3 separate regions of the Homo sapiens genome follow, and all the other regions are linked to region 2. The links come from fine-mapping of genetic effects on gene expression. A gene starts in region 2. Each other region holds a variant in brackets. All regions are shown on one strand. Distances are from middle to middle. Region 1 has its middle 6.5 kb from the start of LINC02698. Region 2 holds the start of LINC00900 (long intergenic non-protein coding RNA 900). Region 3 overlaps LINC02698 (long intergenic non-protein coding RNA 2698).

Region 1 (10,154 bases), 110 kb after region 2:
AGATAATGGTCAGTTTCTGTGGTCAAGGTAGAAGAAACCTTTGTATTATACATCTTGATATAAAATGCTACCTACTGGTAGCTACTAAAAGTGAACACAACACAATAGCAATAGCTAACTTTTGTTAGTGCTTTGTGGTTTATAAAGCATTCCCATCTGCTTTCTCACATAATTCTCTCTTCTACCCTGTTCTTTCAGTACCCTTCCATTTTCAAATGACTTAAGCAAGACTTAGATGGTTAGGAAGGAGAGGATGCTGAGAGCTAGTTCGATAAGTGGATAGGCGGAGGCCAGCCTCTCTTCCTCTGAGAGCCTGCTTAAGTCTCTAAAATGGTTCGGATCTGTGTCCCCACCAAATCTCGTTATATTGTAATCCCCAATGTTGGAGGTGGGATCTGGTGGGAGGTGGTTGGATCATGAGGGTGGATTTCTCATGAATGGTTTAACACCATCTCCATGCTGTTCTCATGATAGTGAGTGAGTTCTCTAGTTGGTTAAAAGTGTTTGGCTCCTTCCCACTCTCCAGCTCTCTTGCTCCTGCTCTGGCCCTGTGGCATGCCTGTTTCCCCTTTGCCTTTGGCCATGATTGTAAATTTCCTGAGGTCTCCCCAGAAGCTGAGCAGATGCCAGCATCATGCTTCCTGTAAAGCCTGCAGAACTGTAAGCCAACTAAACCTCTTTTCTTTCTAAATTGTCCAGTCTCAGATATTTCTTTATAGCAATGTGAGAAGGAACTAACAGCCTCTCACAGCTTCTCCCCAGAAGTCTCACAACATGTCACGGGAACACCTAAAGTTCTGGGCCCAGCATCTTTGCAGTGTATCTCAGAGCCCTCCCTGGGGAGAGAAGCCAGGGTTTGAGGGATTTCTCTACTTGGGATTGATGGCATGTATATAAGGGGCTGAAGCTAATTTTCATGATTTTCTTTATGTTCACTACTTCTTTTAAGTCAGTGGCTCGGGCGCCTTTTGCACTTGGTTGTGGTTTAGTCATCTGGTGCTACTTTCCCATGGGAAGGCGCTTAGGTCACTGGCGACACCTCAGCTCCTTGATGGGAAGAGGTGCTGCCAAGCTGTGCGTGCAAAGTCCACAGTACTTCCTGTATTCCCTGCCTCCTACCTCACTAACCAATCAGGGTTAGGAGTAGAACTCCTCACAGTGCTTTCCATCCTCCCTGCTGCCACTGCTCAGGAGGGCAGAAGTGCAGAGGCACCACCTCAATGAGCCTTGGGAATGCCAAGCAGAGTCGAGGGCCACTGAAGCTTCCCAGTGACTCCTTAACAGTCCAGGCCACTGCTCCATAATCACCACATCCCCACCATGCAGCCCCCTGCAGAGCACCGATGGCTGCTTGAGAATTACCATCCGCAGATCAATAGTGGGGCGATTACTGGGTCTTGCACGCAGCCAGCAGGCCTCGCTCTGGAGGAGTGTGGAGACGCATGCGGGAACATAGGTTCCCTTTATTAGGGCAGCTGGATTCCAGGTGAGACCAAAGCAAGCCTAGAGACTCCCAGGAGGGGGACTGGGAGGCTTTTGTGGAGCCATGGCTCTGAACTGAGGAGTGAGGAAGAGAGAAGTGAATTGGCCTAAGATGGTCTCTGCCTATCTGCCTATCTGCACAGCTAATCAGCTCCCAGCATCCTTTCCCTGTACACACAGCCCACTTAAGAGAAGTTAATGAAAAGTAAACAAACTGATTCTTCCTATCAACTACCCCTTGATAGAAGGTCCCTTGGGCTGAAGAGGTCAATCCTCAGAAAAGCAGGATGTCTGAGGCCACAGCAGGCACAGAGCTATAGCTTAAGGCTATCTCTTGATAAGAGCTTCTTCAACAAAGGCTGCAGGCTGTAGGGAAGCTCCTTCCCCTAAGACTCAAGCCCTCCATTTACCCATCAGACACCATCCCTGTGATACAGACGCCAAGAACAGAAAGACAATCTGACTTATCCTTCTAGGAGTCTATAGTCTTATGGGAAAAATAGAAACATGACCGCTAGACTTGAAGAATATTAGACATCTCCAAGTTCAACACCCTGAAATTACAGAGGGGAGGAAACAGAGGTCTGGAGAGTGAAATGACTTGAGTAAGGTTTCCCAGCTTCCAGGGTCCGATCTGCACCTGGTGGCCTGACTCCCACTCCAATGTTCTTCCCACCACGAGGCAGAATGAAGCAGGTGTCAGCCTCTGTCTCCGAGCCTCGCCAGAGAGCCTATCTCCTTTGCCTTTGCCTAGCCCTGGCCACCTTCCTCACCTGCTTCTTTCTTCCAATTTCAAATGCATGATTAACAGCCACTCCTCAATCCCTCCTGCTCAACCAGAGGTTTGGGGTTTCATTTCCACCCAGCAGAGGAATTGATAACATTTAAGTTATTCAAGTTAAAAAGAAACGTCCTCCTCAAAACCATCTGTTCTCGGGGAGGAGAGCCTTGACCAGGAGAGACGTAGAGAAAGTGGGGACAGGAACAGAGCGGGTACAGGTGGGGAAGAAGGTTGATGAACCACAGCTGGAGGCCTCCCCTGGTCCAGTCTGCCTTCTTTGTCGAAGAAGATGGGGTAGGGTTCTCCTTGCTGGTCTTCTAACATGCAGGACAAGCTCCTGCCTCAGGACCTTTTCATGGGCTGTTCTGTCTAGATTCCCCAGATATCAGCACACCTCACTCCTCCACCACCTCTGAGTCTTTGCTCAAAGGGCACCATGTCAGTGGAGAACTACCATGACCTCCCTACTTAAAACTGCAATACCCTTCCCCCAGAATTCAGTGTTCACCACCTCCCTTACCCTGCTTTCTAGTTCTCTCTAACACCTAATGACTTCTAGTTTAGTATTTAACTGATTTATTCATCATGTCTTTTGTGTGTTTCACCTCTGCCACTACTAGAAAGCAAGTGTTGAGAGGGCAAGGGTTTCGTGTGTTTTTTTCATCGTACCTAGAATACTGCTGAGCATATAGTAGATGCTCAATAAATATTCGGTCAAGGCATGAATTAAGTAGTGAATCAAGAGTCTTCAGATATGAGGGCTGGGAGAGACCTTGAAGATAAACTAATCTCTAACTCTCAATTTGCGGGTGATGAAAATAAAAGCCAGAGAGAGTTTTGTAGAGAAGGTGATGTTCAAGCAAGGTTTTCTTTTCTTTCCTTTGTTTTCCTCTTTTTCAGCTCTTTCAGTTTGTGCATTTGTTCATTCATTCATCCTTTCACTTATTTATTCAGAAAATATTTATTGGACACTACAAAGTACTAATCACTGCATAAAAATAATATTTGAAATTTAAATTATTAACCATCAAAAAAATAAGTATTATATTTTAATGTAATATTGATCACTTTCTTCCAGACACCTTGCTAAGCGCTTTACATCCATTATTTCATATGAACAACCATACACACTATTATTGGCCTCATTTTGCAGATGATAAAATTAAGACTAAAGACACTGCATGGCCTGCCCTAGCCACACAGCTAGAAAGTGGAGGAGGTGAGACCCATGCTGAGGCCTGTTTGACTCCAAACTTCTGTGCTGTACCACTGCATCTTGTCCCCGCTCCCCACTCTTTCTTTTTCCTTCCCATCTCTGGGATCAAACCAAATGGCCCAATCGAGGCGGCAGAAGAGTCAGCCAAGGTCACCCCGAGCTGAACCCTTTTGAGGCCACACAATCCTGCCACTCCACTGGCTCCCTTGAAGCTACCTCTCCCTGTCCCAGCTGTTCTCCTAGTCCCGGCCCCACGCTCCAAGTCCCATATACGAATGCTGGTATGACTCACAGCGCCAAGATCGGTCACTGGGAAAGAGGACTCATAAAACCTTACAGCAGTTTTATAATGTATTCTTAGCTTTTACAGGCGTCCTGGGCGGCCGAGGCTGGGTGGATGGGCGGGCCCCATAGACCCAGAATTGGTGAGAACCGCTACCATGTGTGTGTGTGTGAAGACAGCACCGTCTTTTAGCTGCCTGATAGGGGAAGGGCAATACAAGAAATGGCATTTCTTCAGCTCTTTACAGTTTAAAAAGCACTTTCACGTGTAATGCCCACCAGATAAGGAAGGTATAATTTCAGAGTCACAGGTAAGGAAACTGGTACAGTGCCAGGACTTGGAATTGGGCTTTCCTTCCTGAATTCGGATTTGGTGCTCTGTTCCTGGGACCAGCTGGCATGGCACTAACTCTCAGTGACCTCAGCTACGTCTGTCCACAGAGAGAGATCCTAGGCAGCAGCATCCTCAGGTAAGGGGGAAGAGTCACCTAAAGTCGACACTGACACAACCACGGGGTCTCAGTCCAGGCCCTGTTACCAGCACATCCCAGAGCAGCCTCTGAGTACATTTCTGCTACCGACACCCAAGGATAGGGGATTTTTCACCCACATCTGTGCTGCAGAAGTCCTAGCTCGACTCCTTCACCTCCCTTCATGCTCCCCTGACTATGTTCTGCAAGCCACCCCACCTTTCATGTCCAGTGCAGACCCTCATTTGTGCCAGGCAAGGGGGCTCAGGGCAATGATGCAGTAACGATGCCTCACAGTTGTAATCACCCACACTATCTCATTTATTTGGATTATTCCTGAGTTCCTAATGAAAAATAAGTAAAGTGGGTCTTGTCATCCCTCTTTTACAGATGAGGTAACAGGTTCAGA[G/C]AAGTCAAGCAATTTTTCATATGTCACATAGCTGGTGACTAAGAGAAACAGGATCTGAATCAGGTATTCTGACTCAACTCCAAGTTTCCCTCTTCTCTTCAGTAAATTTCTGATAGTCCCAGCTTGCCTCTAATTGTTCAGTCTGACAATATTTCCAATTCAATGGATTTCCTGTTTCCTCCAAAATTGAAACCTGGAGCTGACTCTGTTAGCTACTTTGGTCCAGAATGGGCATTTTTGAGCTTGTGAGTTTTTGAGAGTGCAGCTGGGCGGTATTCCTTAGGTATCCATTTCCTTACCACTGACACTAACACCAGCCCCCAGTAACACAACAGGCACCTCTAAGATCGTCTCACTTAGGCCTAAGCAAGGGACCCAGTTAATTCTCCTTAATCCTCCATTTATGGATCACTAGCCCTTCCATGCAGGAGAACACCTAGCATGGTGTATTAGTCCATTTTCACAGTGCTATAAAGAAATGCCCAAGACTGGGTAATTTATAAGGAAAAGAGGTTTAATTGACTCAGAGTTCCGCATGGCTGGGGAGACCTCAGGAAACTTATAACCATGGTGGAAGAGGAAGCAGGCACCTCTTACATGAGGTGAGAGAGTGTGGAAACTGTCACTTATGAAACCATCAGCTCTCGTGAAAACTCACTATCACGAGAACAGCATGGGGGAAACTGCCCCGTGATCCGATCACCTCCCACCAGTTCCTTCCCCCAACACATGGAGGTTACAATTCGGATTGCAATTCGAGATGAGATTCGGGTGGGGACACAGCCAAACCATATTACATGGTTTCAATTGTCTTTCCCTGGAAACGTCACCATGAGGCTTCTCCAGCACTGGTTCCTTTATAGCATCCAGCTCCTTGTGTGGTAAACAGGACCCTGCACTAATCTGGCCCCCTCCTGCTCCAGGAGCCTCATGTATCTCTGTGCCTTGTCCCCCACTGTGCCCCAGTCACTAGCACTGCCTGCAGCCTGTCCAGGGACCCTGCTATCTCACCCTCCTTCCACACTGCTCCCTCCCACCTGGACTGCTCCCCTACATGGAAGGCCCTACCCAGGCCTCTTGGCCTGGCAAACACCTACTCATCTGTCAGGACACAGCTCAAATGTCACCTCCTGTGAAGTCTTTCCTGGTACACACCCCCATCATCCCTGCCGTAGAAATCCACCACCCCTCCTCTACACAGCCCTCACTGAGCCCTAATTAAAGAACTAGCTCCCCGCTAGGTCTGAGAGCATTTTGAGAGCAGGAGTACTGTTTTATTTCTCTCATCATCTACAAAGCTTATCACAGAGCTTGGTAAACTAGAGATGCTATATGAGCCCTCACTGAATGTAACAACACGTGAATGGATAAACAGTTAGTCAATTCCACATTACCTGTGGAAAGGAAGGAAAGGAAAGCTACACCAACGTGGAGCTTAAAACTTTACCTATGTCTCCATCCACAGATGCCTGGATAAGCAAAATGTGGTAAATAACATACAATGTAATATTATTCAGCCTTAAAGAGGAAGGATATTCTGACACATGCTACAACATGGATGAAACTGGAGGAACTTGTGCTAAAGAAATAAGCCAGTCACCGATAGACAAACATTCCACTTATATGAGGTACCTACAGTAATCAAATTCAGAGATAGAAAGTAGAATGGCATTTGCCAGGAGCTGGAGGAAGGGAATAATGGGGAGTTGGTATTTCATGGGTACAGAATTTTAGTTTTGCAAGATGAAGAGTTCTGGAAACGGATGGTGGTGATGGTTGCACAACAATATGAATGTACTTAACGCTACGGCACTATACACCTAAAAACACCTTTTTTTTTTTTTTTTTTTTGATGGTGGGGAGGGAGTCTCACTCTGTTACCCAGGCTGGAGTACAGTGGCGCAATCATAGTTCGCTGCATCCTTGAACTCCTGGACTCAAGAGAGCCTCTCATCCTAGCCTCCCAAGTAGCTGGGATTACAGGCTTGTACCACCATACCTGGCTTTTTTTTTTTTTTTTCATGTTTTTGTAGAGACATGGTCTGGCTATATTGCCCAGGCTGGTCTCAAACTCCTGGCCCCAAGCGATCCTCCTGCCTTGGCCTCCCAAAGTGCTAAGATTACAGGTGTGAGCCATCAGACCTAGCCAGGAAAACTATTTGGAGCAGGGCATGTCTAGATCTTAGCGGCAGCATTTTCTAGGAACTGGTACCTGTACCAAGCTGGTCAAAACTTTACAGAGCAAGGTGCTAGGGACTTGGTGATCAGGATAGAAAAAAGGGGCAGGGATCATTCAGATAGCATCTCCCCTGAGCGCAGAGAAGGAAATGACGAACAGTTATACTTGTAATATTCGTTAACTCCTCATGGCAACCCTGTGATGTAGGAACCACTATTATGACCTTAAACCTAAAGCAGCTAAGACTCAAAGAAGTCAATTAAGTTGCACAAGGTCACACTGGTTAGTAGCAGAGTCTGGATTTGAATCCAGGTCTAAGTCATTGTTCGTTAACAGGATTCACTGAGGTTCCCTGCCTGGAGGAGGAAAATGAGCAGGATTTGACCCTTGTCTGTTGGAGAAACACATCCTAAAAGAGCACATTGTGATTCTGTGTACTGACAGATGTGTGCCAGGATGCACTGGAAAACAGCGAAAGGCTTGTTAATTGGGCCTGGGGCAATCAGGAAGGTTCCCTGGGGGCAGCAGGGAGGAGTTGCAAGGGGAGGGGGACGGTGGATGGTAGGGGCAGGGAGGAGTGTAGCAGTCTGCCCCTCCCCAACAACTACAGACCATGAGGTCTCAAGTCGTCCCATAGCACTTAGCACTCCAGAGTGGAGTTAAACTCCATTCCAGCTCTCCCCTTCCCCATATAACCAGGGAGAAATTGCATCTGGCCTCTGCTTCACAGAACAGCATTTGGGAGGTATATACATACATACAGTTTTGTTTCTGGACTTGCACAAATGCACAGCTGTTTGTCAGCTTGCAGACTGCATTTCTGAGCTGTTTTGCTTTGAACGCCTCACGCCTTTGGCCCCTGAGAATGCTGGGAAACCAAAATGGCAGCAGCTTCCTTGGCCCGAACCTTGAATTTTTACCAGGACTGTCTCACGGGCATCCTCTGCAACCTGCAGTGGACAGCCAAGGTGCTGGTGGGAACCAGGAAGCCCCCTATGCAGAAGCACCAAGGAGAGAGGGTTGGCAGGAAGTCAGCCTCCCTTCTCCAGCACAAGCCATGAGAGGGAAGGACATTTGAGGATGGAGCCTCAAATGCAGGCTGATTGTAAAGAATGTTTCACACATAGAGCTCCTGCCAGGAAAGCCTGACTCTAAAAACTCCAGTCAATGTGGTACTGGAGGGCTCATTTGTTTAGCACCTATTATTTGCAAACTCTAAACTACCTGCTTTGGGGTTTTTAGTGGTGCCTATACCCTATGAAGTCAACTGACAAGAACCCAACTAACTGTAATAAGAGGAAGGCTCAAAGTCCCAAGAGATGCATCTCAAATGCTGTAAGAGTTCAAGGTGGGGTGGAGGGAGCGAGATGCTCCAACCCTGGTAACATCTCCAGCCGAGCCAGCCTATAAACGCAAATAGCCTAGGGGGCTGCTTTTACAGGAGAGTTGGGAGCAGATTGGATCCGTGACAGGAACCATTATTCTTCTGAAATGGAAGAGGCTATCGCCATAGACTGACCACTCCTCCCCAGGCAGGCAGCTGAAGTTGTCCCAAGCCTTGGAATTAAAAAAGAAAGAAGATGCTGATGCCCCAACTGGTCTGGAAAAACAAGATACAGGCTGGGCAGAAACAAAGCCAGGCTTCAGGATGAGATAGGCCTGGGGCCAATCTTGGCTCTTCGACTTAAAAGCTGCGTGACCTGAGGAATGACACTGAACCTCTCTGAGCCTTAGGTTCTCCATCTATAACATGAGGATGACAATCCTTCCATCACAGGGTTGTTATAAAAATGAAACAAAGAGGTATAATATGTAAAGCCTTTAGCCCAGACCTGGTATGTAAGCACTAACTTATTGATAGCTTGTATTATTATTAGCGTTAGTAGTAGTAGCATCTTTAGTGTTATTATTACTAAGATTTGCCTGGGTGTTCCTTTTGCCCCACTCATAAATTTGCTCCATATCCCGGTAGGTCCTGTGGCCTTGGAAGTCTCCCAGCACTGTGGGGAGATGCCTTATTTCTGAGCTTGGGACATTGGTGAAGGAGCCTGTGGTGCAATGTTGTCATTAGTACCTGATACAGGGTTGTCGTGAGGATCAAAGGAGCTAAACATACATGAAGAGCGTCTAGTAGTTCCTGGCACAGAGGAAGTGACAGTGTGGTGTAGAAGTGAAGATTGAAGACTCTGGAGGCAGACTCAGGTTTGAACCCCAGCATCTATCATTCCTAGCAGGATGACCCTGAGCAAGTTATTTAAGCTGCCTGTCACTCAGTTTCCTCGTCTGTGAACTGAGGAGGGAAATAATAGTGCTCATCCCATGGAGTTGTTGTGGGGATTCAACCAGATAACACAGAGTATTGGACTTGAATCCAAAATACCCAGGTTGGAGTTCTGACTCTAGCAATAAACAGCTGTGTAACAGTAGACAAATGACTTAACCTCTCTGAATCTGTTTCATTGCCTGAAAACTAGAGATACTAATGCCCATTCTGGCCACTGCACGAGGCTCACACCTGTAGTCCTAGCACTTTGGGAGGCCAAGGTGGGCAAATCAATTGAGTCCAGGAGTTCAAGACTAGCCTAGGCAACATAGTGAGATCCTATCTCTCCAAAAAAAAAAAAAAAAAAAGCTGGACATGAGGACATGCCTACAGTCCCAGCTGATAGAGAGGCTGAAGCTAGAGAACGCTTGAGCCCAGGAGGTTGAGGCTGCAGTGAATCATGATCCCACCACTGCACTCAGCCTGGGTGACAGAATGAGACCTCGTCTCAAAAAAATAAAAATTAAAATTAATAAATAAAAATAATGCCCATCTCACTTAACTTGATGGGTTAATGTGAGAATTAAAGCATTTTGTAAACTGTAACAGGTAATAAAAGTATAATAGACAAATGAAAAAGTAAAGTTGTAAAGCAGCATTATAGTTTTCTTAGAAATATTATAACGTATATGTCTTGAGGAAAAGACATATAGATAAACATACGTGCTTGTACAAACATGGAACATTTTTCAAAGACTTTTTAAACTCTTTTGTAATAATTGAATATTTAAAAACAAACAAACAAACATGTTTTCCTCCCACAACTTAAAACTAAAGCAAGGCCGGGTGTGGTGGCTCACGCCTGTAATCCCAGCACTTTGGGAGGCCAATGTGGACGGGTCACCTGAGGTCGGGAGTTTGAGACCAGCCTGGCCAACATGGTGGAACCTCATCTCTACTAAAAATACCAAACTTAGCCAGGGATGGTGGTGTATGCCTGTAATCCCAGCTACTTGGGAGGCTGAGGCGGGAGAATAGCTTGAACCCGCGAGGCGGAGGTTGCAGAGAGTTG
Region 2 (10,154 bases):
AAGGAATAATGGAAGAGAGCCAAGACTGAGAATGAAGGCAGTGAATTCAGTTTCAAAAATATTGAGTTGGAGGCAGCTTCAAGATGGTTAAGTGGAGATTTCAGGTTTGCTGTTGGAAATACAGCTCTAAAGTGTAGAGGAGAGGTCTGATTTGGAGGCAAATGAGGGAGTCTTTGGCATATGGATGATGATTAAAGCCAATTCCATGGGAAAGATCACCTTTGGGGGAGAATATAGAGTAAGAGGAAGTGAGGGCCAAAACTTGAAGAGCCCCATTGTGCAGATGTCAGATAGCAGAAGAGGACAAGCCTGCCACAGAGACTGGGGAAAAGCCCCCCAGACAGAAGAAAGGAATCCAGGAGCATAGGACTATGCTCTGGGAGAAAGGAGCATCATCTCCCAGTGAACAGGGAGGAGGGCATTTCAATGAAAGAGAGTGGTCAGGAAGGTGTACTATCACTGCAAGGTCAAGGGAAATGAGGAGTAAAAAATGTCCATTAGATAGAGACATCAACCCAAGGTCACTGGGAACCCAAGCCATAGCTGTGTCTGTGCACATATTAAAGGAGCCAATGCACACGAGGCACCCTGTGCAGCAACTGGCACGTAGTCAGCTCTCAGTAAATGTCAGCTTTTGTTAAATTCACTCTTTAACATGTATACATCTAATATTCTCCTATTCTATTGAAGGAGGAAAAGAAGGAGACACAGGTTAACATCTTAACAGGAGAGCTTGAGATTAAACCCAGAGAACTTCCAGACAGGAAGGGCTGTAAAATGCCTGTAAAGGCTATTAAAGAATATGATAGGACTCTGGATAAACTTAGGCTCAGGACAGATTCCTGTGTGGCGTCTGAGACAGGACTAATGCAGCTCTTCCTTGAGGCAGGGGACCCACCCCAGTCATCAGGGTGGATCATTTCTGCACTGGGTGGCCCTAGCCCTTCCTCCCCTGCCCCCATGGAGACGAAAGCTGTCCTGTGAAGGAAAAGCCTCCTCATTTCAATGGCTGGGCAGCCCAGGTTAACATTAACAGAGTCCTCCAGCAGAAAGCACCCAGAGGACAAGCACTGAAAAATATGCTTGAAGGGCCAGCCGAGTGGCCAGGATTACAATGTGATGCCCGGCCTTGGGTCAGTAATGGGGAGGTATTAGTCATCTCTTCAGACCTCAGCTCCATTATTTTTGCCAGAAATGTGAGAACAGCTCTCACTAATAACGTGTGGAACCACTTCCAACTATTTGCCTTTCAAGTCAGCCTCCTCAGGTCGGGTGACATATCTCGTTTAACAGGGGGTGCCATTAGAGGGAAGATTTAACGTGTGGCTAAAAGCATTTGTAGCGAGAGCTGTGGGTGGGTTCCTTTTTAAGCTTCTGTGGCTGGTAACTTGCGTCTCTTCCCTCCGTGCTGTTGGGTTTTGTTGTTGAAGCCTTTTTCTTTCCTGAAGGAGGTTGGTCATTAACTCTACCCTTCCCGGAGGATCCCCTGGCATGAGCAGGGCAGGTCGAGAGTTGAATTAGAAAACTTTCCTGTGCCAATCAGAGACTGCATGAGGTTCAGCAGGCTGGCATAATTATTTGAAGCTTCTTGCTATCCTCATACAATTCCCCCCCAATCAGGTGACCTGGTGTCCCTTGATATTGATGTCTTACAGCAATAACCTTAGCCTTGAAAACAGAACCACAAATTTACCAGCCCACAGAATCTGTATATCTACCAACAACATGAGTCCTGCCTCTTCTCATGCCTTGAGAGGGCCAACAGTCATGCCAGGAAGAGTGGAAAGAAGAGGGCTGAGAATCTGGAAAAAGAACTTGTTATTTTACTGAAATCTCCTTTCTTGACATTTTTCCCTGAAGGCTGGGACCATTTAAGGCCCTGATGAGCTTCCGAAATCTCTGTCCCAGGGTAATCTTCCTATCTCCCAAAGTCTCAACCTCTCGAGACTCTGATTCTTTGTCTGAACACAGAGAGAGTAATAGCTACCTATCAAATGAAAGGCTATAGTTAGAAGCACTGAGCACAGGGCTTTGCACATGGGAGGGGCCCAATAAACATATATCACTTACATCATTTTTGGTTATAAGTTACAAGTCATAGAAAATCCAACCAAAGTGCCTAAATAGAGGGAATTTATTGGATTGTATAATTAAGAAATCCAGGGCTAGGCCTGGCTTTGGGAATCTAGCTGGTGGCTCATGAAACTCTCTCCAGGGTCAAGTTTCTCTCTGGCCATCCCTTGACTGGGCTTCCTATGTCCTGGCTCCAGGTCATTCAAGGCTTGGTGGCAGCAAGATGACAGCAGCTGTATTAGTCCCAAGTCCAACAGAGAAAAGGCTGCTCTTCCTCTACCTCATCCCCCAACAATTCACCTAAGTCCTAAGCCAGACACTCACTGGGCAAGTTGGGTTATGGACTCATCCCTGAGCCAATCGCCAAACCTTAGGCCTTGGAGTGTGATGACTGGGTTTACCCCTGAGTCTCAAATTCCACCTGAAGGGGAAGAATGACGGAAGGAGCCCCATCAAACTCAAGGTGCTGAGAGTTGCATGGAAAATATATCTCAAAAAAAAAGAAAAAAAAAGGTATACTATCACTACCAAAAAAGTGGCCAGGGAGGATATCAGGGTGCCCAAACATAGAAATATCCACTGCAAATAATAATTTACCATCCTACTCCATGTGTGAGATACAGGTTATTTGAGAGTAATGTTTAATAACGATATATCATCAAGGAAATCTCCATGAAGTCGCCCTCAAAACTTTTCAGCAAAGTGCCCACTTCCCCATATATTAGTAATATATTGATTACACCCATTATAGCACTTTTATCATCTGCCTTCTATTAGAGTTACTTACTTTAAGACTCTGTTACCTCCATCACAATTAAGCTCTGGGTAGTCAAATACAGGGTTATTTTTCTCCTCAACCCACACAGCACAAAGCACGCAGTGGGAAATCTGGGTGCTTCCCGACCCACACTGGCTCCCTGTATCCAGTTCAGCTCTGTTCTTGTTCTTCCCTTTCCTTCCCCTGACCACTTTATCTACTTGGGGTTAGACTGGGAGGGACTAATGGATGCGATGAAGTCTAAGGTCAGAGGTTCCCCGACTCACCCTCTCTCTTGCTAGCATCTGCCTCTGTTATAGCTTCTCTCATGTTGTACCTTGGGTTGTTTTGCTGGTTTCTCACCACTGTTACCTTGTGCCTAGAACAGTAGCTGTCTCCAAGAAAGCACCCAATTAAGTGGTATAACCACTACGAGTGATTCTCACTCATAATCGCCCCTCAGATTCTCAAAGAAGAGCCTCATCTATCAGGGCTACTGAAAGGTAAGGTACTCAGCCCAGGTGAGGGGTTCGAAATCTAGAGGGCTATAATGCAGAATACATAAATAGAGAAGGAACTGTAAAGCTCACTGTTGTTCCTTGCTCTCCATCAAGCCAGAGAAGATGCAGAGACAGTACAGGGAGCCTGACAGGCTATAGGGGGCAGACTGAGTTAGTAGAGCAGGGGATCTTCAGCTTGACTCAGCATGCAGTTGGTACCCATGGGGAAAGGGGAGGCCAACAATTAGTGGGGGGCTGGCAGCAAAGACCCTCAAAGGCAGAAAAGCAACACAGCTGTGGCTGTGAATGAGCAGCCTGGCAAACCATGATCTCAGTAGTGTCCTGAAGCCAAGAGGAACAGGCTCCACTCCCTGGGATGTGGGTGGGAAAGGGCCCAAGAGGAGGCCAGTATCTCAGTCAGATGGGACTGGAGCTCAGGGGGCTGTAGTGCTAATTAGGAAACTAAGGCAGAGTCCCAGCACTAGGAATGGAACCACTTTAGTGGTGATCAAGGGAAGGGTGTTTGCCACAAACATACTGGATCCTGAATCTGTGGGCAGACATCTGAGTACAGCACTTCCCCTACCAGTAAAAGGGAGGTGCTAGTGCCCTCCTAGCCCAATTAGGGCAGGCTCCGTAGCTGGGTGGGGCTGAGCTTGTAGGAAAAGGCCTACTAGGCAGTGCCCTGCAGGGCTGGGCAAGCCAGGACTGATGGCTGGGCCAGGTGAGAAAGATTTCCTGCTGTATTTGCAGACTGAATATGTGTCTGGGGCTAGGGGCTGAGCTGCTGCCAGCACCATCTGACCTCAAGGATCCCCCTAGTCAACAAGCAGCAAGAACAGGAGACTCCAGAGGCTCCCTCAGCTTTGGAGATAGCTCTGCAAACAAAACTCAGTTTTTAGGGGTTAATCCTCAGCCCCAGGAGGAGGCAGTGGGCCTCCTCTGAAGGGCAGAGTCAGCAAGTGGGCTGAGACTAAAGGAAAGGCCCAAGACTGCAGGCCTGAGATTAGTTTGGCAGCAGCTCCAAAGAGCAGCCCTTGAATCGCAGGGATTGTCTGAGCCCTCAAAAGCACTGGCTGCCTCCCACCAGCCTAGCTAATGGGGCTGAGCTGCTGGGGCCATGACCTCTGTCTACCCGGCTGATGGTCTGCTGCTCTGAATCTCACTCCCCCAGCACCCAGCAGGACCAAGGGCTCTGTCTAGCTTATGTGCATCGTGCCCTTGCATGTTTTCAGCACCTACTATGCGCGCAGCATCACACCTCCCCATCCACCTGCCTCCTGTTACTCTCACCAGCACGCTCAGTCAACCCTTGGGCTAATTAGTGATTAGGTCTACAGTAAGCATGCATGGTGGGGTGCAGAGAGTGGGGTGGCCAGCGGGTGATGAGTGAGGGGAGAAGAGAACAGGAGATAGGAGGTCATGGTCTGACCTTCTTCCAAAGCCCGGAATCCCTGAGTCTGTCTCTGGCAGCTGTGAAACAGAGGGAGCATGGGATCTGAACCGTGCCGCCATCTGGGAGGTCACACACACTCACAGCCAAACCCCCGGAAGGAAACTCGGGCTGAAATACACCGTTTGCTGAAGAGCAGGGCTGGGCACTGGTTTCTCTGCGTTCTGAATTTCTAGAAAGGGTAGGGTCTCCGTTGCCAGGCGGCGTCTGCCACCTCTTCCCACCGCGGCCCCTCCAGCCCTCCACCCCTTCCCCTGGGAGACCCCCTGTGAGGACCCTCAGCAAACTTCTGCAAAACCTGACGGGCCCTGGGTGCAGGGTGGTGTGGACGCAGATCTTTCAGGCCGAGGGGGGGGCGGCGGGAGGGTGGGCGTGGAGGTGCGAGAGGCGCGCAGCCTCCGCCTGCCCAGCTGTCTCTGCGGACCCCGCCGAGGGAGGGAGAGAAGCGCTAGGAAAAGGAAGAGGAGAAGGAGCTCGAGCGGGAGGCAAGCGAGAGGCTCTTTTGCTCCTCCCAAAGCAGGGGGCGGCTCCACTGTGCTTCTGATGACCCGGCCGCCGCCGCCGCCCTGCAACCGCTCCCCGGGACCCCTCAACGCTGACACTGATGACCCGCGGCGGGGGCGCTGGGCGCGGGGTGCGCAGGCCACTGGCCGCGGGCTCTCGGGCCCGCTCCTGCCGCCGGCTTCTGCTGCTTCCGCGGTAATGACACTCGGCGGAGCGGCCGCCATCTCTTCTGGTACTTTCACTGGAGGAGGGAAGGGTGGGGAGAGCCCTCTGTCCACCCCTGCCCTGCCCTGGCGCTGGTCCGCCACTGCCCGCTGCTCTCGCGCTGGTCCGCAGCTCAGCCGAGCAGCTCCCTTCATCTGGCCTCCCAGACCCTCACTCAGCCGCGAGAGGAGGAGCTCCGGCGACCTCGGGCCTTCCCTTAGGGTCTGCGCGGCCCTTACCCCAAACCCGCCCAAGGTAGAGGCGTGAAGGGGCCGGCGGCGATGCAGAGGCGGGAAGCGCATTGGGGAGGCGAGGCTGGAGAAGGGGACGCAGGGAGGCGGGGGGTGGACCCCCAGCATACTCCAGGAGCCGGCAGGAGCCAAACCCCAGCCCTCCACACAGGTATTCCTGCGGACCACGAGGTGCCACCCGTCCCTGGTCGCAGAAAAGACGAAGGGAAGGCCCAGCTTCCCTACCTCTACCTCCCATGCCGGGCGCCCAGCCTGCTCAACTGAACCCCAAGCCGCAGGTTAACCCTGCTCCAGCTTCTCCCCTTGGCTATGGGCAAACTCCTTTTCTCTTTCCCATTGAGAACCACCGCTCAAATTCGGAGGGCTTTCCTCCTTGGTGCTCAGAGCTCCCAAGATGGGTGATTCTCTGCCAGGGGTCCTTAGCTACCCACTTTGGACAAGGATGGACAGATGTTTTCTCAAGCTTGCCTAAAGCACAGCTTCTAAACAGATGAGCCCTCCCCACGTTCCCCGCAGATTGTCTGGCCTTCGAGGAAATAAAGATGACCGTAGCCAAGCTGCCCTGCTCCGCACAAAGGACCCTGGGCGCCCCATCCTTAACTCCCCTGCCTTATGCTTGAGATTAGCATATCCACCCAGCAACTCCTCTGCTCCAGACTTAACTTGACCACTGCAGTCCACACCGACTCTCCTATCCACCAGAACTGTGCACTTAAAATCTGCTGCACACAATCCCATACTTGCTTGAGTCTGGCTTTGTTCTCCAATAGTTTCAAATGCCTGTTTGACTCCCCCCGCCACCCCCACAGAGATAAGGTCATCACAAGCAGTAACTACTGCTTTGCTTGTTTTGATTCCCACAGAGCCGAGCATAGATTGATGTGGCATAAGTGCTCAATAAATGCCCATGGACTTGGCTAATGGATGGACTTGCAGGGGACACTGCCCCATCAGGAGAGAAAGGTAGCCTTACTCTCATCTGCCCCACCAAGAGGAACCTAAGGTCCTATTTCCTGGGGGTGTCTCAAAAATCGGCAGAGTCGTTCTCCCCCCACCATCCCTCCTTGCCTCCACTCCCCTCGGCCTTCTGGATCCCCGTGGGTTTGGAGAGGCCGATGCTTGTGGCTCTTACCAACATCAATTTGCAGTCTCCAGGATGCAACTTCACCCTATGCTGCGTTCATAAATTAATCTCCTGGGATTAGATTCTGTGTTTTAGTAACACTCCTGAGGCATTGTATTTACACATTAATAATAAAAGAAAAAAAGTGAGACAAGTTCTGACAACTTTCAATAACATTCAGAAATAAAGTGCGAGGCACGGAAGTGTCCAAAGTTAATTAAAAGCATTTGGTGCTGACGGGGGCTGGGGGTGTTGCCTGCCTAGCTCTGACAGGTGCTGTTTCTGAAATGCAATTTTCCTGTCTATAATGTACCTGATGCCTGCAGAAAAGGAGAAACCGAAATAAACTGAACTGGCAGCATGAGCTTGAATTTTCTCTTGTTTTGTTTTACAGTGCCGTGGACACTGCCAGAATTTGTCAAAGGTCCTAGGAAGAAAAGGCTCTTTCACCCCTCCCCTCAATGAACAGATGGCGTGTTTGGACTGTTCGCATTCGCTCCTCATAGGTGGGATCCTGGAGGAAGTTAAGGGGTGCTCCGTTCCCTGGGGATGGGACAGCAGCTCGCCTTTTTACTAATAGCTATAAGGGACTGTCAGACATTTACCTGACTAGACCTTCACCTCAGAGCTCAGAAGGGGAACAGCTCCAGAACTAAAAGAGAGAGCCTCTGGCAGACCCCAAAAGACAGCATGTGGAGTGAAGCTGGGCTTCCCTGCCCAATCACTAGGATCATTTATTGCACAAATACCTGTATTTTAAGCTGCAGATTATTGTGAATTTTTGTATTTTCTTCATTTCCATTTAGCTTTTTTTCAATTTTAGAATAGCCTTTCTCTAGATAACTCGAGGAAGTGGGAGACGGAATTTCCTTTGTTTCTGTCTTGAGCCCAAAGGGACAATTGAGTGTCAGGTATGACAGGGATAAAGGGAGAAACTCAGAAATAATGCTTTTGTTTTGTTTTGTTTTGTTTTGAGATGGAGTCTCGCTCTTGTCGCCCAGGCTGGAGTGCAATGGCATGATCTTGGCTCACTGCAAACTCCACCTCCTGGGTTCAAGCGATTCTCCTCCTCAGCCTCCCAAGTAGATGGGCTTACAGGCAAGCGCCATCACGCCCGGCTAATTTTGTATTTTTAGTAGAGATGGGGTTTCACCATATTGGTCAGTCCGGTCTTGAACTCCTGACCTTGTGATCCACCCACCTTGGCCTCTCAAAGTGCTGGGATTACAGGCATGAGCCACCGCACCCAGCCAGAGGAATGTTTTGGGTGCTACACGTGCAGCCCCTCATGACTGTATCTCCTCAGAGCTCTTTTCTTCACATTCCTGAGTGCTTTGTGTTTTGTTTATTTAAGGGACAAATGAATCTCTTCCCACGCCATGGGATTTCCCTTGATTTTTATATTGGGAGTGAAAAGATGAAGCATGAGACTCTTCAGCTGCATCTCGAACTGCATCTAATCCCAGCACATCTCTCTCAATCTTTGATTAAGTCTGTTCATCTAAAAGAGAGACACAGGGGAAAAATGGAAATGGGACTTTGGAAGAATGACCATCCACATTCCCATCACAGCCTGAGATTTCCTACCTGATTGAGATTTTCAGTAGATGGCCCTAGGTCTAGTTTCCCACTTTGGACCTGCTGCCCTTGGCTCCAATAGAGGACTTCCAAGTAACTAGGAAGATTTCACCTCTCTTTTGAAACATAATGGACAAATGTGTTTCTTTAGGATGAGAGGTGCACCTGGCTAGTCAATCTTTATTTTCCTAAAATAAACAGGATGAAAACTCAAAACAAAAAGAAATACCTCATGGGCAAAAGCTCTCCCAATACAACTAATACAGACACTCAACATGGCTTTGTAGAAACTGACCCCTCTCCCAAGTCTTATGTTTGTCAGAATTGCATGCCTATTTCAATCGAAGAAAAGTGATCTGATCTCTTCAGATGAAGGTGGGACTTGGAGATGCTGCTGCCTAGAGTTAACTTGCCAGAGAAAGGATAAGCATTCGGGAAGTGCCAGGATGGGGTATCAGCTGAACAATGGCAGGATCCCTTCTGCCAGTGGGCTGGCTCAGGGAGTAAACCTCCCCGGAAGGAATTTTGTTTCTCTCTAGAATCAAAGTGGGCAAAATGATCACCTTATTCGCCTGGAGTGAACCAGGTTGAAACTGAGAAGGCAGACATGGGTGATAAGCCAGATGAAGTCATATGTTATAACTAAGCTATGTACCTGTAACTTGCCTGGTAGTTTTTTCATTCTCTCTAAACAGGTCATAATAAGTGTTAGTCTGTGATCCACTATGGAGAGAGATTTCTGGAAAGAATAGAGGCAGTGGTAGAGGGTCCAAGGTTGTTATTTAAGGAGATGAATGTGGGTCAGGTGCCGTGGCTCACACCTGTAATCCCAGCATTTTGGGAGGCAGAGGCAGGAGGATTGCTTAAGGCCAGAGTTCAAGACCAAACTGGCCAATATAGTGAGATCCCCCCCCCATCTCTACAAAAGATAGAAAAACTTAGCCAGGCATGGTGGCAGGTGCTATAGTCCCTGCCACCATGGGACTACAGCTCCTGCAGTCCCAGCTACTCAGGAGTTGAGGCGGAAGGATTGCTTGAGCCCAGAAGTTCGAGGTTGCAGTGAGCCATGATCATGCCACTGCACTCCTCCGTGGGTGACAGAGCGAGACCTGACTCAATAATAATAATATTAATAATAATGATAATGCAACACAAACTATCTTTTACCTCTTGAACAATGAATGCAGATGCCATGACTACATCTGTTTGTTGGGGACCAGGGAGGCTGCCAGTGAGGATTCAGGGTGGAAGTAGTGTGTACCCAATACCTATTGTGAGATGTGGCCTGGGGAGCCCTGAGATTGCCTGGCCAGGCTCACTCACTACCCAGACACCCTCTTCCTGCATGGCGAGTCCCTCAGCCCCTCCAAGGCTCAATTCTCAGACATCGGAGTAATCCACATCCTCCATCTTGAGTTACTCCTCACAAGGCCTGCAAGTTTTCCTAGGAGGAAGGGAAGACAGGGTTGAACCCACACAATTCTAGAATCTAGAATTTGGAGGATTTCTAAACCATTTCTGTAAGTCAGCCCTTGAGAACTTGTAGATTTTCTCATCATTTGCAGCATGAGAGTCTGGAGTAGACTGTTTGGATTTGACTCTTGGTTCCTTGGGCAAGTTACTTAACCTCTCAGCTGTGTGTCAGTTTCCTTATCTAAAAAGTGTGGTTAATAATAACTGACCTCTCAGAGGTATTGTGAGGTTACTGTGA
Region 3 (10,154 bases), 53 kb after region 2:
AAGAGTCCAAATTTCTGAACTCTGGACTCAACCATGCATTAGCTGTGTACACTCACCATGTAATCTTGAGCATCCTGGTCCCTCTTTCTGGCCCTCTTTTCCTTCTGTAAAAAGAAGGGCTTGAACTACATCACCTCCAAGAGCCCCTGTGTCTCTTAGAGACTGTAACTGTGACTCTTAGTCAAAAAAAAAAAAATAGAGCAATTGGTTTAGGAAATGACCTTCCAGTACTATAAAGACACTTTATATTAGAAGCAATAGAACAATTCCCTATTGTGATTCATCCCCAGTGCAATCTTTATCAGAAAGTGTGGATTCTGATGGACTGAATGTCTCCCTTGTATTCAGGATGGTGTTGCAAATGCCTTTCTCTGAGCTGGGATGTGTAGTTTTGGTACCAAACAGACATGGGTTCAAATCCTGCTTCTGGAACTTACTTGCTGTGTAACTCTGGGAAAATTGTTCCACCTCTCTCAATTTCAGTTTCTTCCTAGGTAAAATGAGTCTAATATTATTTACCTTCCTTGTGTATTTTTGCCAGCCTGCAATATCTCCATGAGGACAGCTTACTGTGGATGACCTCCGTGGCTTTGCTGCAGTATTGAACCTCATGGTCACGCATGTCCTCTCACCTGTACAGTTGCTTTACTGTTTCTCATCCCCACCTGCTATAAGCCAGCCAATAAAGGTATTAGTAAATTAATAATTCATCTAGAGCCAATCCAAAGTAGCACACACCTGCTCAGAAACTACCTGGGCTTATTTTCAGTAGCAGTTCCCAGACTCTTTGATCCTGGGGAATGTATTTATGAGTGTTTCTAAGGTTGGGGGAGGAGTATGCCGGTGCCCAAGGCTGTTGAGGATCAAGTGTGGCTGTGATGGCACATGGCAGACATTCAATAATGATCTCTGCTGGTGTTTCTATTATTCTTATTACACCTTCTGTTCTGAAGAAGGTGGCAGCGTACCTCTTTCCATGGTTAGAATAACAACAGGCTTCCAGCCCCCAAGCCAACTCAGCTTTTGATTTAAACAAAAATACTGCAGGTTATTCCTTTGGTAGAAGGTGGAGAAAAAGAAAAACAGACAGATTGCCAGGGAAGATGTCTTCTTTCCATTCACCTGATGGCTCTAGGGAGCCCTTCCCTCCCCCATGGAAGACAGGGCTCTCCTCCAGCCCAGGCTCTCCACGACCAGTCCCTTGTGGGAAGAGCAGGCCTCTGGCCACCAGCCCTTTGGCCTCCACTAGGTCAAAGAAAGGGCCATTTGGTCTTCTTTCCCACTCAATCACTGTGCCCTACAGAGGTGACGGTCCACCACTCCATGATGTTTCTGTGCAAGAGTTGCTCCACAAACCCAGGCCAGCTGCAGCATGGGCCCTATCAGGTGTTTCCGAGGGATCTTCCTCTTTCCCGATTCCCCCCTCCTGTATGACTGGAGGAGAGCAGGCTGGGCACGCAGGCCCTCAGCGGGACGTAATAGCAGATGTGTGCAGTGCATACGGTTCCCGGCACATTCGTTTGATCTGTGTCCAGGTTCTCTTAGACATTTGCTTCTAAGCCGACAGCTGAACATAAAAGCAGTCCCAAGTGGCTGTTTTCAGGTCTTCAACATTGGTTAGCCGCAGTTGGGAAATCTTCTTCCCCGTGCCCCTGAGTGAATTATCACGTTATCGAGTCGGAGCTTCGGGGTGGCCAAGCCGGAGCTCCGCCGCTCCTCCTCTGATAATCCATCACCCACCGAGTGGGTTATTAAGACATTCTCTGCCTGGGCGTGTGCATCAATCTGCGGCTCAACCATCCTCCCAAGGGAGCACGCTGGAGGGGTTCCTGGAATTCCCATCCCCCAGATGTTTGAGCCACACAACCCTCGCCACTTCCTCAGCCCACCAAGGGGTCCTGTGTCTGATCACCAGTCCATCTTCATCCCCTATGTACCCCCTCCCCACCATTGCCCCCTGCACCCATCCTAGCCATTCAAGTAACAATTTCTTCCAACACTAGCCCTCCTGAGCACGCACTCATAGGAAAGCCCACCCCCCTCCGACCCCATCTTCTCCTTGTCCCTCTGCAACCAGGTCACCCCTGCTGCCCTCAGCCTCTGGGCAGAGGGGAAGATTAGATTGCACATGAATAAGCAATATTCACTTGGCGCTGACAGCCTAGAGTAAATCCCTTGAGCTGTTGTACAGGAGCAGTACAATATTTCCCATCTCCTCTTCCCTCCATCGCCTCCCCCCATCTCCTATTTCACTTAAGGGCCTTTTTTTTTTTTTTTTTTTTTTTTTTACTGGGATGTACTTGCACGTGGGTGACTATATTAGAACAACACCATCAACACACAGCATTTACAGCAAACAGATCCCTGGGAGCAGTCACCTGATTAACAATGAGGAAAGATACTCGAGGAGTGTGTTTCCTATTTTGCCTTCCCTTCTACTGGGAGGAGGAAAGAGGTCTTTTGCTTCCCACATAAGCTCCAGGCCCTGCTGGGTCACTAAGCCCACCTGTGGAAGGAAAACCCTCCCAGGGGCTTCGAAGAGCCTGCCTTTCAGAAAGATCTGGAGAAGTGAGGTACCCCTCAAGAAGGGAAGGTGACCGCCACTTTTACCTAGCTCAGGGCGGATACTCAGAAACGCTGGGCAAGTAAAATCCCGCCCCACTACCTAGCAGCTGTGTTCCCTTAGGTGAGGCACTTCATCACGCCCCTGCCTTACTTTCCTCACCTGCTAAATGGGAATTAATGCCCTTGAGTAAGATGCTGGTCACAAATGTTTAGAACCGTGCCTGACACATGCAGTCAATACTCATGAACTGTTTTTGTTCTCCTTTCATCTGCCACCTCCACTCCCCATACCAGGCCAGATTCCAACAGTTACGCCAGGAACAGCAAAAAGGGACGTTTTATTTATTTTGTTGTCTTTGACAAAGACGTGCACCCGACCCCTCTCAATGGTTCTTCCTCAGGCCTGGGAAATGCCCATTAAACTTATTTGTCTCTAGTGCATGATAAGTAAGTGATCAATCAAGAGAAGAAGGGGGCAGGAAAGAAAGGGGAAAATGAAAAGAGGAAAGAGGGGAGGAGGGGGCGAGAAAGAGAGAGGACGAAAAGTCAGGAAGGAGAGAAAAAAAAAAAATGAGGCGAAACCGTGGAAGAGATTACCACAAAATCAGCCTGTTCAAAACAAAACTGATCCTACATCTCCTCCCCCGCCCCCACCCCACCCCGCCCAGCCCCAGCATGTCTGCCCGTGACTTCCCTGTTTCTATCAGTGGTGTTACCATTTTCCGTTGTCTGAGGCTTAAAACCTCAGGGTCATCTTCACCTCTTCCCCATTTCTTGTTCCCCTTATTCATTCACTGACTCGTCATAGTAACTCTTCATCATCTTTCTCAGGTACTTCTTTTTTTTTCATTTTCTGGCCACCCTCACTGTTGTTCAGGGCCTCATCATCTCCCATCCCCATGCATTTGGTCTTCCTGCTTCTAATCTGTGTCCCTACCACCCACTTTGCTCGATGCATCCAGACGAATCTTCTCAAAGCGCCATTCTCGTCATACGGTTTTCCGTTTCGAAAATCAACAGTGCTTTCCCTCTCCTATGAGCCCCTCACACCATCCCAGCCTCTTTCTCCACCTCGCCTCTGCACAGACCCTCTCCTCCAGTCTGACTTCTCTTCTCTTTGTTCAGGACACAGAAAGTGCATTTCCATCATGATGAATTTTGGGTAGATGCTCAACCTGCACCGTCTGACATAGTAGCCACAAGCCACAGGCGGCTACTGAGCACTTGAAATGTGCCTAGCACTACTGAGAAAGTGAAATTTTAATTTTATTTAATTTAAATTAAAAATTGAAAGCAGTGGCCGGGCACGGTGGCTCACGCCTGTAATCCCAGCACTTTGGGAGGTGGAGGCGGGAGGATCACAAGGTCAGGAGATAGATACCATCCTGGCTAACACGGTGAAACCCCGTCTCTACTAAAAAATACAAAAAAAATTAGCTGGGCGTGGTGGCGGGTGCCTGTAGTCCCAGCTACTCGGGAGGCTGAGGCAGAAGAATGGCGTGAACCCAGGAGGCGGAGCTTGCAGTGAGCTGAGATCGTGCCACTGCACACCAGCCTGGGTGACAGAGCGAGACTGTCTCAAAAAAAAAAAAAAAAAAAATTGAAAGCGGTGTAAACTATTTTTGTATTCAACACAGCTTTATTGTTTTGATAGAACCACATTTCACTTTAACCATCACATCCCATAAAATGTTATTGCTATGCTATAGTACATGTGTTGGGGAACATGTGTCATTTCTAGTATTAAAAACACATCACTGGCAATATCAGTATCAATGAATTGATTCTGTTTGAATGATTTTTTTCTATGCACTGAAGTACCATTGTAATGTGATTATTTATGTAGACAGCCTGTGTTACAGGGATACCTGTTTCTTTTAATTTTTTAATATGCCCACTAGACTATGTAAAATGTAAATGAGCCTGCATTGTAGTGCTAGTGGATCACTCTATTGGCTTGGGTGATGGGACACTGGGACTTATTAGCAAGGGAGGCAGGAAACAGCTCCCTAGAGCTGCTCATGGCAATGTCCAGATTGAGATGGTCCTGCCAGGGGCATCTAGAAACCAACAGTTTGAGGCACCCTGTGCTCAGGTGCTTAAGGCACTCTTAAGCACATTGCAGAAGGCTGCAGTCCATGGTGGGCAGGAGGCTTGGCTTGGGAATCCAGCTAAGGCTGAACTGGCATCCACCTCTGTCAACCTGATGAGTGATTCTGGGCCTCAGTTTTCCTGCCTGCTAAACTGAAAACAAGCTCAGAAGGTTGTTGGGAGGAATGCATAAGATAATTCTCTTAGCATGGTATTTGCAGATAATGAGTGCTCAATAATCATTAGCTATCAGTCTATTGGATTTAATGCAATAGAGGCAGGAGGTGTATAAAATTACTTCTGGAGGCCCGTTGTTTCCACTTTTCTCTGATTTGCAGTCACATGATGGCTGTGGAGGATGAC[C/G]TTTTGACTCACAGAGATGAGGTCCATTGCAGCACTAAAATCAGCTCATAGGGAAGTATTTTTTTACCCACAGACTCAGCATGAAATGTGTTCTCAAATGTCCGTCGACTAACCACAATGACCTGCCCTTGCAAATCTCCCATGATCAGCTCTGAGCTCCACCTCCAGCCTCTCTGGGATGGGGTTGGGGGTGGGCTCTATTTCTATGCAGCTACTGGGTACTTCAAACTGAACGTTTGTGTGCCCCAAAAATTTATATGCTGAAATTCTAACCCCCAATGTGATGGTATTAGGAGATGGGGGCTTTGGGGGGTGATTAAGTCATGAGGTCAGTGCCCTGATGAGTGGGATTAGTGCCCTTCTAACAGAGGCCCTGGAGAGCTCACTCTCCCTGTCCACTCTATGAGGACAGAGAGAAGGCAGCTGTCTGTGAACCCAGAAGCAGCCCTCCTCAGACACTGAATCTGCCAGCACCTTGATCTTGGATGTTCCAGCTTCCAGAACTATAAAAAAAACAAATTTCTGTTGTTTAAAAGCTACCCAGTCTATGTTTTTGTTACAGCAACCTGAATAGATTAAGACACTGGATTTGCCAAAAAAAAAATAATACTCAGTATGCCTGGCCCTCCTCCCAAAAACTCACCTCCAGGTTCTCTCAGGGTTGACTGAGTTCTCAAGCTACAAATCACCAGGACTGTGGTATAGGAAACTCTCCAGAGAAGCTCCAAAAGAAAGCCTCTACCCTTATTTCCACCTAGCTCTTTACCAAATTTAGAGGGTGAGCTGATCCCTGGCACTACCCAGGCAGACCATCTCATGACTTAGAAATATCCCCTAATGTCCTGCCAGGCAGGAGGAAAGGAAGTAGCTTTACAGCTTGAGTCACTGGAGCACAAGTCCTCTCCCAGCACTTCTTAGTAAAGGAAAGGACAATGCTTTCAGACAACACTGGAAGAAACAACAAAGCAGAAACCAATTCCAAGTTCTCTGCAATGTTCTGGACCCAGAGCCAAAGACAAAGCTAGGGAGGCTTGGATTTAGGACCTAGAGATGCAGCAGAGTATCTTAAAGGGCAAGAGAGTAAAGCGTTGCAGCATGGTGGCAAATGAACTCACACAGGAGCCCATGCTGTCATTAAAGTTACTGGTTGGCCTGTTAGGGTTCTTTCCTATCTGTTTCTAATGTGACTCTGTGAGTGGATTAAGGACTCTGGAAAAGATTGCTGGAGGCCAGTAAATACCTCCATTTCCCAAGGCAAGTGTTGCAGGGAGCTGTTAAAGGGTCTTAGAGGAAAGTAATATCAGGACAACTTTTCGTGGTAAGTAACTTATACTCTTTTATTTTTTGAGACAGGGTCTCACTCTGTCACCCAGGCTGGAGTGCCCTGCAGCCTTCACCTCCCAGGTTCAAGCGATCCACCTGCCCCAACCTCCTGAGTAGCTGGGTAGCTGGGATTACAGGCATGCATTACCACACCCGGCTTATGCTTTTTTAATGAAAGGAAAAAAAGAAGGAATTAATTTATTCATGTATTTATTTATTTTATTTTTTTCTGTACTGGAAACAAGGTCTTGCTATGTTGCTTCTGTTGGTTTTGAACTCTTGGACTCAGCAGTCCTCCCACCTCAGCCTCCCAAAGTGCTAGGATTACAAGTGTGAGCCACCGCACCTGGCCAAGAAGGAATTTATTAAGAGGATCCTGAATATTTCCTATAATCAGAACTAAAATTGAATAACCGAAGTGGGAAATGTAAAAATGCTGCAACAGACCAGCTTCTTCCATGTAGCAGACCTACTTCACATAGCAGAGATTACTAGTAGCCTAATCCAACATGCATCGTCCTTTTCTCCTTAGTGACAAGATCCGTTTTACTCAGGGGAGTGAGCAATGGTTTCCAGCTATAAAGCTACATTTCCCAGCTTTCTTTGCAGCTAGGCATGACCATGTGATTAGGTTCTAACCAATGAGATGTAAGCAGAGGGTTAGGCCTTCTCAGAAGGAGGGACATGCACATTTACTTCCTTTTGTGCCTTCAACAGCTTGGAATGCAAATAGATCATTGAAGTTCTTGCATCTTTATTAAAACATGAGTGGACTGGAGCTGGAAATTTGCACTGAGGATGGAGAGGGAGAAAGTTAGGATCCTGACCCATGGAGCTCTCTGCCTGGCCCTGCAAGTTGTATCTCTAGACGTTTACATAAGAGCAACATCCATGTCTATTGTGTTCAACTCACTGCTTTCTGTTTAGTTTTGTTTTCTTGTGGTGTGATTGAGTGGGGCAGAGAATAGTACAGTACTACTGAATATAGTAAAATTCAAGTCATGGACTACAGTTAGGATATTTCATAATTTCTTATTCTATAGCATTTTTAACCAAAGAGGAATCTGACTGACTTCCTCAATTTTTGTTTTTAAAATTCCAGAAAAGTTCTTAGACTGGCCTAGCTCAGATGCAGTACTATCCCTGGACCAAACAGCTGTAGTCCTGGAAGCATGTCCCATGAAAGGCCAGGAAGAGAGGGGACACAGGATGTTTCCAATGCTGACCACTGCATGCAGAGGGAGGCGTAACAGATCCTAGATGCAAAGAGATGAGTAGACAATGCCTATATGTCTACTGTAAGAAGGAGTAGGGGCAAATTACATTAATTTTACCATTCCTGCACATGTCATTGTAATCAATAATGACATTTCATATTTGTATAACGGTTTTCAATTGTTTAGCAAATTACAATATAAAATCAATTTTTGCAGTTATGACCCCCTTGGATCTTCACAAGAAGCCTATAGGGTAGTTATGGATCATCCCTATTTTGCAGAAGCAAAACTGAGACCGAGAGAGTGTAAGTAATTCATTCAAAGTCTTCGTTGGGGAGTATCAGAGCTGGATCTCAAGTCAGGGTGCAATTTATACCACTCCAACTAACATATTAATTCAGCAGTCATTGAGCTTTCCTTTGACAGAGAGGACTGGATTAAAGATGATCTATCTCTTCTCCCATCCATCTCCACTCCCTATAAAAGACAGCTCTGTTATCATGATACTTAGAATTGAATTGGACAGAGGAGAAAACATACTGTATTAGTTCGTTTTCACACTGCTGATAAAGACATACCCAAGACTGGGTAATCTACAAAAGAAAAAGTTTTAATTGGACTTACAGTTCCACGTGGCTGGGGAAGCTTCACAATCATGGCAAAAGGCAAGGAAGAGCAAGTCATGTCTTACATGGATGGCAGGAGGCAAAGAGAGAGAGAGCTTGTGCAGGGGAACTCCTCTTTTTAAAACCATCAGATCTCATGAGACTTATTCACTATCACGACAACAGCATGGGAAATACTTGCCCCCATGATTCAGTTACCTTCCACCGGGTCCCTCCCACAACACATGGGAATTCAAGATGAGATTTGGTTGGGGACACAACCAAACCATATCACATACAGTGGAACTATTTTAAAGTACCAGGCAGGAAAGTAGCTATAAACTAAATAATGTCTCTAGAAGGAATGGATGCCTAAGCACTGCCTGCATGTGAAGTCAGAACTGGTCACTGCCAGGCTGCAGATGCTCCAGGAAAGTTGGCCATGATACTGATGTTAGCCCAGAAAATCCCTGGCAGCAAAGCTGTGAGAGCAACAATTTCTTTATTGGGACTTTTTAAAAAGAGCTTTTGGTATACTTGAAACATAAGTATGACTTATTTTCTCAGCTCTGGTAAATATTTAATTATCAAAAATAACAGTGTCTTTTTTCTTTTTTTTTTTACCTTTTTGAATCTGAATCATAGCTAGAATTTTATTAAGGCTCTCTTGGCAGTGAATGGCAGCCTAGTGTGGCTTTTTTTTTCTTTTCTTTTTTTTTTTTTTTTTTTGTGAGTTGGAGTCTTGCTCTGTCACCCAGGCTGGAGTGCAATGGTGCCATCTTGGCTCACTGTAACCTCTGACTTCCAGGTTCAAGCAATTCTCCTGCCTCAGCCTCCCGAGTAGCTGGGACTACAGGATCCCACAGTGTGGCATCTTTTAACTGGCATCCCTGTAATTAGAAGGAATTGTCTTTTTGTACCACAGATTTGAACTGGCTAATTTACTCAATGAATATTTAGCTTCATACGTAGGCAAACATTATGTGAAGAGAGGAAACTTTACTGAATAAGTATGCAACCTAGAAAACTTCCTAGGAGCCAAGTGTGGCCTGTCTATATGAGATTTTCTCCATGGCCCCTTACCCCAACTGTCATTTCCCACCTCTGCCATCTCAGATACACACACACACACAGACACACACACACACACACAGACACACACACACACACAACACATTCTGACATTTCTGGGGAAAGTGGGCAAGGTCCTCAGTTGTCATTCTTTGGAACTTTATATTTTTGTTTCTTATGAAACATTTTCAAATATTCAAAAATTTTAAAGAATAATATGATACTCTGTGTCTACCTCCTAGCATAAATAAAACATCACCAATAAAGTTAAATGCCCATGCACTACATCCCCTTTCTCCAAACCATATCCCCTACCCACTATTCCCACTCTCTTGAATTTGACCACCTTGAATTTGGTGTTTATATTGCTGTGTATTATTCATAAATGGTATATAATATGGTTTTGCATCATTTACAACTTTTATAAGTGGTATCATGGCGTATATATTCTTCTGCCACTTGCTTTTTTAGCTCCACAGTGTGTTTGTAGGATTCATCCATGTTGATATGCATAGCTCAACTGCATTCATTTTTATTACTATAAATACTTTCATTGAATGAGGCTGGGCACAGTGGCTCACGCCTGTAATCCTGGCACTTTGGGAGGCCGAGGCAGGCAGATCACTTCAGGTGAGGAGCTCAAGACCAGCCTCGTCAACATGGTGAAACCCTGTCTCTACTAAAAATACAAAAATTAGCCAGGCTTGGTGGCTCATGCCTGTAGTCCCAGCTACTTGGTAGCTGAGGCAAGAGAATTGCTTGAACCTGGGAGGCAAAGGTTGCAGTGAGCTGAGATTGTGCCACTGCACTCCAGCTTGGGTGACAGAGCGAGACTCTGTCTCAAAAAAAAAAAATAAAGATAAATAAAAATAAGAATTTCATTAAATGAATATGCCCCAACTTATTTATTTTTTATCCA

What was found. PIP is the estimated chance that this variant, and not a neighbour inherited with it, causes the effect.
Region 1: its variant is fine-mapped to the expression of LINC00900 in nasal epithelium (TOPMed, PIP above 0.99).
Region 3: its variant is fine-mapped to the expression of LINC00900 in whole blood (TOPMed, PIP above 0.99).

The regions. Positions count from the first base shown.
Region 1 is chr11:115,647,807-115,657,960 of GRCh38, reverse strand. No RefSeq gene overlaps it. Among named protein-coding and RNA genes, the nearest start is that of LINC02698, 6.5 kb to the left of the region's middle. RefSeq lists an enhancer at 1,289-1,790. The variant G/C (reference allele first, on the strand shown) is at 4,641.
Region 2 is chr11:115,755,358-115,765,511 of GRCh38, reverse strand. LINC00900 (long intergenic non-protein coding RNA 900) reads left to right here and starts at 5,312. Exons shown (of 3, transcript NR_034148.1): 1 at 5,312-5,482; 2 at 7,260-7,371; 3 at 8,220-10,154. The region is part of intron 2 of LINC02698 (long intergenic non-protein coding RNA 2698); the gene reads right to left. RefSeq lists enhancers at 5,718-6,252, 7,432-8,631.
Region 3 is chr11:115,702,646-115,712,799 of GRCh38, reverse strand. All of the region lies in intron 2 of LINC02698 (long intergenic non-protein coding RNA 2698), which reads right to left. Among named protein-coding and RNA genes, the nearest start is that of LINC02698, 48 kb to the right of the region's middle. The variant C/G (reference allele first, on the strand shown) is at 5,020.